Homo sapiens: one gene and its partner. The protein of the gene in region 1 interacts with the protein of each later gene in a pairwise test. Each region holds a gene or a part of one and is shown on either strand. Other genes may lie near its edges.

Region 1 (3,818 bases):
ATAAATGTTAGCTCTCTATACACCTCACCTAAAGCTTGCTAAAGAGAATCCTTACTAACTCACTCAATCACAAAGAAGTTAATCCGGTTTATAAACTCCTCTCCATGGCATCAGAAGACAGAAGTTTTGTTGTTGGGTAGTTGCAGGAGCAGAGTCAATACCCTGTCACCAAGGCTGGCCTGGAAAACAAGCTGCAAATGTCCAGAGTGATGCTGCATGGAGGGGGATTCTGAACCAACAGCCAAGAATCCCATTTTCAAGTCCTAACTCTGCCACATGTTTTCTGTGTAACCTTGAGCATGTCACTTAACGACTCAGCTTCAATTTCTCATCTGTAAATCAAGGGGAATGAGACAGGATAAATGGAAAGGGTCTTTTCTACCCTAAAATTTCTGGATTCTATGAGCACAGGGTCTGCATATGTGTCCTTGTTAGATACCAGTGATACATTGTACCAATAGGTTATTCATAGTATTCATACTTCATACCAAGAATGAGACATTCATCACTCTAACTTTCTTGATATTCATAAGCACAAGAAAATTGTTGTGCTTTTGAAGACCTCAAAAAAAGGAATCTAAGGCTAAAGACAAATTTTTTAAGTGTCATAATTTTTTTCAAGAATTAATAGTCATTGTTGTCCATATTCAGTTGTACTGGCTTATTTCCAACAAAATTTCCCTTGCCTACATGGGGCCTGAGATGCTCTAAGCTTTCAGAAGGACAGAAATGAATAAAAGCATTTTTCCTAAAGAACAGAAGAATCATCTTAAGTGGGCATATGTGAACTATCTAGTTTCCCAATTACTGGCAAACAATTTTAATCTTGGACTGCCCTCCTTGCCATACAAGTATTGTATTACTTGGCCCCTGTATTAGTTTTCTATTTGTTGATATAACAAACTACCACAAATGTAGTGGCTTAAAACAATATAATTTTTTTATCTGACAGTTCTGTAGGTCAGAATTCCAATACCAGCTCACTAGACTAAGTTCAAGGTGTCAGCAGAGTCATGTTCCTTCCTGGAGACTCTAGGGAAGAATCTGTTTCCTTGTTTCATCCAGCTTCTAGAGGCGACCCATACACCTTGGTTCATGGACGCCTTCCTCCAACTTCACAGTTGGCAGCATAGCATCTCTCTAATGAGGGATGGTTTCAGGATGAAACTATTCCACCTCAGGTCATCAGGAATTAGAGTCTCATAAGGAGCATGCAACCTAGATCCCCAACATGTGCAGTTCACAGTAGGGTTCATGCTGCTATGAGAATCCAATGCCATGCTGGTCTGATAGGAGGCAGAGCTCAGGCAGTAATGCTTGCCTGCTGCTTACCTCATGTAGTGCAGCCAGGTTTCCAACAGACCACAGACAGGTACCAGTCCTTGGCGTGGGGGTTGGGGACTTATGAGAATCATGTTTCTATCAGTTGTTATGGCCCATTATCTGCTCACTTGTTCTCTCCATTTGCATAGATAATTGACATTTGACATTTGGTAAGATTTTCTTTAGTTTCTTTTCTGGATAAACGTATCACTTTTGTATGTTTTGTGATACTTAGGACATAATGATGTCATCCAAGCCAACAAGCCATGCTGAAGTAAATGAAACCATACCCAACCCTTACCCACCAAGCAGCTTTATGGCTCCTGGATTTCAACAGCCTCTGGGTTCAATCAACTTAGAAAACCAAGCTCAGGGTGCTCAGCGTGCTCAGCCCTACGGCATCACATCTCCGGGAATCTTTGCTAGCAGTCAACCGGGTCAAGGAAATATACAAATGATAAATCCAAGTGTGGGAACAGCAGTAATGAACTTTAAAGAAGAAGCAAAGGCACTAGGGGTAAGTCTATTTACTACCAGAATTTTAATTTCACATTTGCAAGGTCTTCTTATAAGTTATAGGAGAGTATCATCCAATTGCTAAAAAGTTCTGAACGTTATTCTGAAATTATCTCTTTTAGACAGAAATATTTAGTCTGCCTATAGACTTTCCCTTGAGTTCATTTCATTTTAGATCAAGCAAAAATATAACAAGACACAGAGGAGCCTCCCTAGCTGGAGAATTTGGTAATATTGACGTGACAGAAGCACTGTTACATCTAGCTTGATCTCATTTCTTCAAAGGACTTTTTGGACAATCTCAATCCCATCTCTGGATTAGTTACAAGTCTGGTTTTTGCATAAAGGTGAATTTACATAACAATGAACAATGATGGCTGCCCCCAGAAAAGGAAACTACAAATGGGCAGTCTGGGAAAGGCTGAGTGTGAAAGAATTGGGGGACATTCCATCTGCTATGCCTCTTTCACCAATACCCTTAGAGATGCTACAGTTTAACTGTCACCTTACTTCTACAAAGGAGACTCTGAACTGACTGCCTTGTTTCTGTAGGCATTGTAAAAACAAAAATGCCCTACTTGTAAGAAAATTCCACCTGCCTAGGTAGAATTGTTAGTCCCTTCTCCGTGCTTTCCAAATACATCATTCATCCCGCTAGCACAATTCCACCAAATTATATTAAGTCTCTCCCTGTGAATAGCTCAAAATGCTCTGCTGGAGCATTCCGTAAATGAATGCTCATTATGTGCCAGAAACTCTTCTAGCCATCTTACTATGTATTTCAAGTTGTGATGTTTTAGGGAAGTAAAAATGAGCATAAGTTCTCCTGCAGCAGCCTATTTACTAAGCTGTGGAGGTGGCCCTTCTGATCCTCCTCCTCCCAGATAGAGGAAATTCCCTGCTCCTAATAAGCCAATGGGACAAACTAACACCCCATACAGCCAGCCCCACACAGGTGCTTGGAATATCATTAAGCACAAAGGAGGTGCAATCTCTGCCCTCACAGAACTTACGCCCTAGAGGGGGAAATCAGACTGTATACATAATAAGGAAGTAAAGTACTTAGTGTGTTAGAAGGTGTCGAATGATATAGACAAAACAAAGAAGTGTAAAAGGGCTAAAAAGTACTAGGCAGTGAGGAGGCAGCAATTTCAAGGTGGTCAGAATGGGCTTTCCTTAGAACATGACATTTGAGCAAAAACCTGAAGTTAGGAGTGAGCCCTGCAGATATTAGGGAAAGAGAAAACAACCAGTGTAAAAGTCTTTAGATGAAAATGTCTTTGAGGTATTTGAAGAACCGGGAGGAGGCCAATAAAATAGAACAGAATGAGTGAGGGAGGGGGCAGTTGTCAGGAGGGCAGATGAGTGGCAGAGGCCACAGGTGGTGAGGCCTGCAGAGCAGAAGGCTTTGGCTTTGACTGGGTGGATGAGGAACCACTGAAGCATGCTGCCCGGCACCGAAGAGGCGTGTGATAAAAATACTTTAAAAGAATGTGAAGTTTTGTTTTCAAAATCTCCAGTTGGCAGAAGCTACTTCCTCTCTCTGAAGATTTGTTATTTCTATGCCATCAGCAGGCCCTGGGCATCATGACAGTGCAGGGGCCACAGGTGGCAGGACTTGGCACACCTGTACCAGTCAACTCAGACCTTAAAGTGCTTCTGTGGCCAAAAATGCAGACAAATTGTATGTCCAAATTTTTAAGTCTGTCCTATAGGCAATTTTGATCAGTAGATGGTACAGCCAGGGCTGTAGGAGGAGAAATGAGGGCCAGTACAAATCCAGATCTAACTGCCCCTCATCAAGGTGACAGCAAGGATGAGAATGGGAAGTTTGTGACCAGACGGCTGAATTGCTGCTCTAAAGAACAGTTGTAAAAACCAAATATAAAGTCTAATACAGGAGTTCTTTAAGTGAGATAGGCTAAACGTGGCCCATCATCTCTCTGAAGCTATAAGCAAAAGTATGGTATGTGTGTGTA
Region 2 (3,818 bases), on another chromosome or scaffold:
CTCGGCCTCCTAAAGTTCTGGGATTACAGGCGTGAGCCACTGCGCCCGGCCGGGACTGGTCTTAAAAGGGAGTAGGGACCCTTCTCCCTCAGAACAGGAGGAAAGCAGGGGCAGGTGGATGCCCAAATATATTGGTGGTTTCAGAGGCAGGAAGTTGAGGGGGTTCTTGGAAAGAGGGCTGGAGCCCTTCTCGAGCAGAGAGTTCTGGAAGGCCCCCTCCCAGACCCGCCAGGGAAAACCAAACCCAGCAGCCTTGGGATTTGAACTCAATTTCCTCCTTCCACCTGCCAGGGAGCTCAAGTCTCCCTTTCAGCCCTGGTAGAAGGCAACAGGTCTCCACCTCCTTGTCCTCCAGCCACTTCTTCCCAAGTGGCAGGGGAGATCCAGTCATGCAAGGCTATGGGGTCATTCTGGGGTTCGCTGGTATCTGAGGTGACCCCACCCTGTGTCTATCCTGCCTCCAGGCCCTCTCCGCATTGTGGTCCTAGTCGTCAGTGTGGGTGTCACATGGATCGTGGTCAGCATCCTCCTGGGTGGGCCTGGCAGTGGCTTTCCTCGCATCCAGCAACTCTTCACCAGTGAGTGTGGGACCCCGCCTTATCCTTCTCTGGAGGCCACCAAGGTGGCCACCTGGGCCTGTGGTTGAGGCTCTGGGTTGGGAGTTGACTTGGGTTTTCTATCTCCTCCCTGGCAGGCTACCTTTGGCTGTCCCCAGTCTGTCTCCTGGCATCAGGCGCAGCCTCCCCCAACACCCAGTTGCTTCATCTAGGAAAGCCAATACCTGATCACTAGAATTATATGCCCAACTGGAGTCAGTAGGGCCAGAGTAAGGGGTAGGGAGCTTCCACTGAACATGGGGAGTGATGCCCCGGTTGCTCCCTGCAGGCTCTGAGATGGAGAGGGGACTCTCCACCTTGTTGACTGGTAATAGGTCACCTGAGTACTTTTTTGTTTGTTTGTTTGAGACAGTGTCTCACTTTGTCTCCCAGGCTGGAGTGCAGTGGTGCAATCTCGGTTCACTGCAACCTCTACCTCCTGGGTTCAAGCGATTCTAGTGCCCCAGCCTCCCGAGTAGCTGAGACTACAGGTGCGCACCACCAAACCCGGCTTCTTCTTCTTCTTCTTCTTCTTCTTATTATTATTATTATTATTATTATTATTATTATTATTATTGTATTTTTAGTAGAGATGGGGTTTCACCATGTTGCCCAGGCTGGTCTCAAACTCCTGGGCTCAAGCAATCTACCCGCCTCAGCCTCCCAAAGTGCTACAGGCATGAGCCACTATGCCCGGCCAGGTCATCTAAGTAGTTTTTCTAATTCCATTTCCCCCTGTTCCTAGAGTAGGGAGTTTTTCATCTGAACATGACTTACACTTGAGCAGGAAGCATGCCAAGGTCGGCCTGGCTTAGCCCCCGGCCCCTGAGCCTGACTGCCTGTGTCTACACTTCGCGGTGTAAGGAGGGCCAGGCTGCCCTGCCGCAGGCCCCGGGAGGCTCCACACTAACAGAAACCACTCTGTATCCACAGGTCCAGAGAGCTCGGTGACTGCAGGTAAGGCCCCTGTCACCTCCCTGCTCCTCCCCTTTGTGACATCCCTGCCTGCCCCCGGTCCCGTAGGGCTTCGGTTTTCCATTTATTCCTCCCCAAACCAGCTGTGGTGGTCCACGGGGGCTGCTTGCCACTGTCAACCTACAAAACAAGTTACTTCCTGCCAAGTTACTTCCTGCCAGAATATGACGGTGGGGCAGGCCTAGGATAGATACTCCCACTGCAAAAGGGCAACTTGGAAGGAAAAAAGAGGTCACCCGTCCCAAGCAAGTCCAAAGCCCAGCAGGGCAAAATTCATTTGGTTTCAAGGCCTGAGGGGAATCCTCTGTGGCCTGAGATTCTTTCTTCTGGGCCTGCTGGAATGACCCATGCTCTGAAACGAGACAGCCCCACCTTCGGGGCCACCCTTCCTTCCCTTTATCTCATCTCTGCCCCCTTCACTCCAGGCCGGCAGTGTTTCTGCTGGTGTCAGATTCTCAAGAGCCTTGTTGGTCTCTTTTGCAAGTTATAGAGGCCCAAGCTATAAAATCAGAGAGTTTTCCCACAGACGCTTCCTAGATAACCCCATCTTCATTGTAGATTTCTGCTGAAAGGGTTGAGTGGACCCACGAGTCACATACCTCAGCTCTGGGGCAAACGCTTGAACAGCCTTGCTGTTCTGTCCAGGGGACACTTTTGCAGTTTTTGTAATATGATTAGGCCAAGAATTTTCCACATCTTCGCTTTCTGGCTCCTTTGTGCTCAACAGTTTCTTCCTTATGTCTCTCACATTTTACTATAAGCAGCAAGGAGAAGTCAGGCTACGCTCTCAACACTGCTTGGAAATCTCCTCAGCTGAATATCCAAGTTCAGCACCCAGCACTTACACATTCTCCTTTCGACAAAACACTAGAACACAATTCAACCAAGTTTTTTTTTTTTTTTGAGACGGAGTCTTGCTCTGTCACCCAGGCTGGAGTGCAGTGGAGCCATCTTGGCTCACTGCAACCTCCGCCTCCCGGGTTCAAGCGATTCTCCCACCTCAGCCTCCTGATTAGCTGGGATTACAGGCACCTGCCACCATACCCAACTAATTTTCATATTTAGTAGAGATGGGGTTTCACCGTGTTGGTCAGGCTGGTCTCGAATTCCTGACCTCAAGTGATCCTCCCGCCTTGGCCCCGCAAAGTGCTGGGATTATAGGCGTGAGCCACCACACCTGGGCCAAGTTCCTTTATAACAAGGATCAGCTTTCCTCCAGCGCCCAATAACTCAATAACATGTCCCTCATTTTCCTCTGAGGCTTAACCAAAAGCACCTTTTTTTTTTTTTTTTTTTTTTGGTAGAGACAGAGGTCTTACTCTGTTGCTCAGGCTGGAGTTCAGTGGTATCATCCCCGTGCACTGTAAGCTCAAACTCCTGGGCTCAAGCGATCCTCTCACCTCAGTCTCCCAAGTAGCTGCGACTACAGGCATGTGCCACCACACCCAGCTAATGTTTTATTTTTTATTATTTATTTTTTGAATGTATTGAGACAGGGTCTTGCTCTCTCACCCAGGCTGGAGGGCAGTGGCGCAATCATAGCTCAAGTGATTCTCCTGCCTCAGCCTCCTGAGTAGCTGGGATTACAGGCATGTACCACCACACCCAGCTTATTTTGTATTTTTTGTAGAGACGGGGTCTCACTATGTTGCCCAGGCTGGTCTTGATCACCTGGCCTCAAGTGATGCTCCTGCCTTGGCCTCCCAAGGTGCTGGGATCACATGCGTGAATCACCACACCCAACCCAAAAGCACCTTTAACATTCATGTTTCTAGCAACGTTCTGTTCTTGATGATATTTGTATTCTCTAAGACCACAGAGGCTGTCTCTATTGCTCTCCCCTCCTCTCACCAGAATTACCTTTAACATCCATACTCCTACCAACAGTCTCTTAAAGGCAATCCAGACCTTTTCTAACATGTACCTCAAACTTCTATAGCCTTGATATGGTTTAAATGTCATCTCTAAAACTCATGTTGAAATTTGTCAATGTATTGGTATTGAGAGGAGGGCCTTTTTGAGGTAGTTACGTCATGAGGGCTCTGCCCTCATGAATGGATGAATGCCACTATTATGGGTGAGTTAGTTACCTTGAAGTTCAGCCCCCTTTTTTCCTGCGTCTCATATGCTTGCTTCCACCTTCCACCTTTCTGCCACGGGATGACCCTCACCAGATGCCGGCGCCATGCTTTTGGACTTCCCAGCCTCCAGAACCATGAGCCAAATGAATCTGTTGTCTTTATAAAT

Evidence for each region.
Region 2: the proteins of MS4A12 (region 1) and FAM3A interact in a two-hybrid assay, tested with the Homo sapiens proteins (one large-scale study listed by BioGRID).

The regions. Positions count from the first base shown.
Region 1 is NC_000011.10:60,495,755-60,499,572, forward strand, and holds part of MS4A12 (membrane-spanning 4-domains subfamily A member 12), read left to right. Parts: intron 1-1,558; 5' UTR 1,559-1,564; coding exon 1,565-1,840; intron 1,841-3,818. UniProt on the Homo sapiens protein: May be involved in signal transduction as a component of a multimeric receptor complex.
Region 2 is NC_000023.11:154,509,583-154,513,400, reverse strand, and holds part of FAM3A (protein FAM3A isoform 1 precursor), read left to right. Parts: intron 1-464; coding exon 465-578; intron 579-989; coding exon of another isoform or gene 990-1,087; intron 1,088-1,529; coding exon 1,530-1,553; intron 1,554-3,818. UniProt on the Homo sapiens protein: May act as a defensin against invading fungal microorganisms.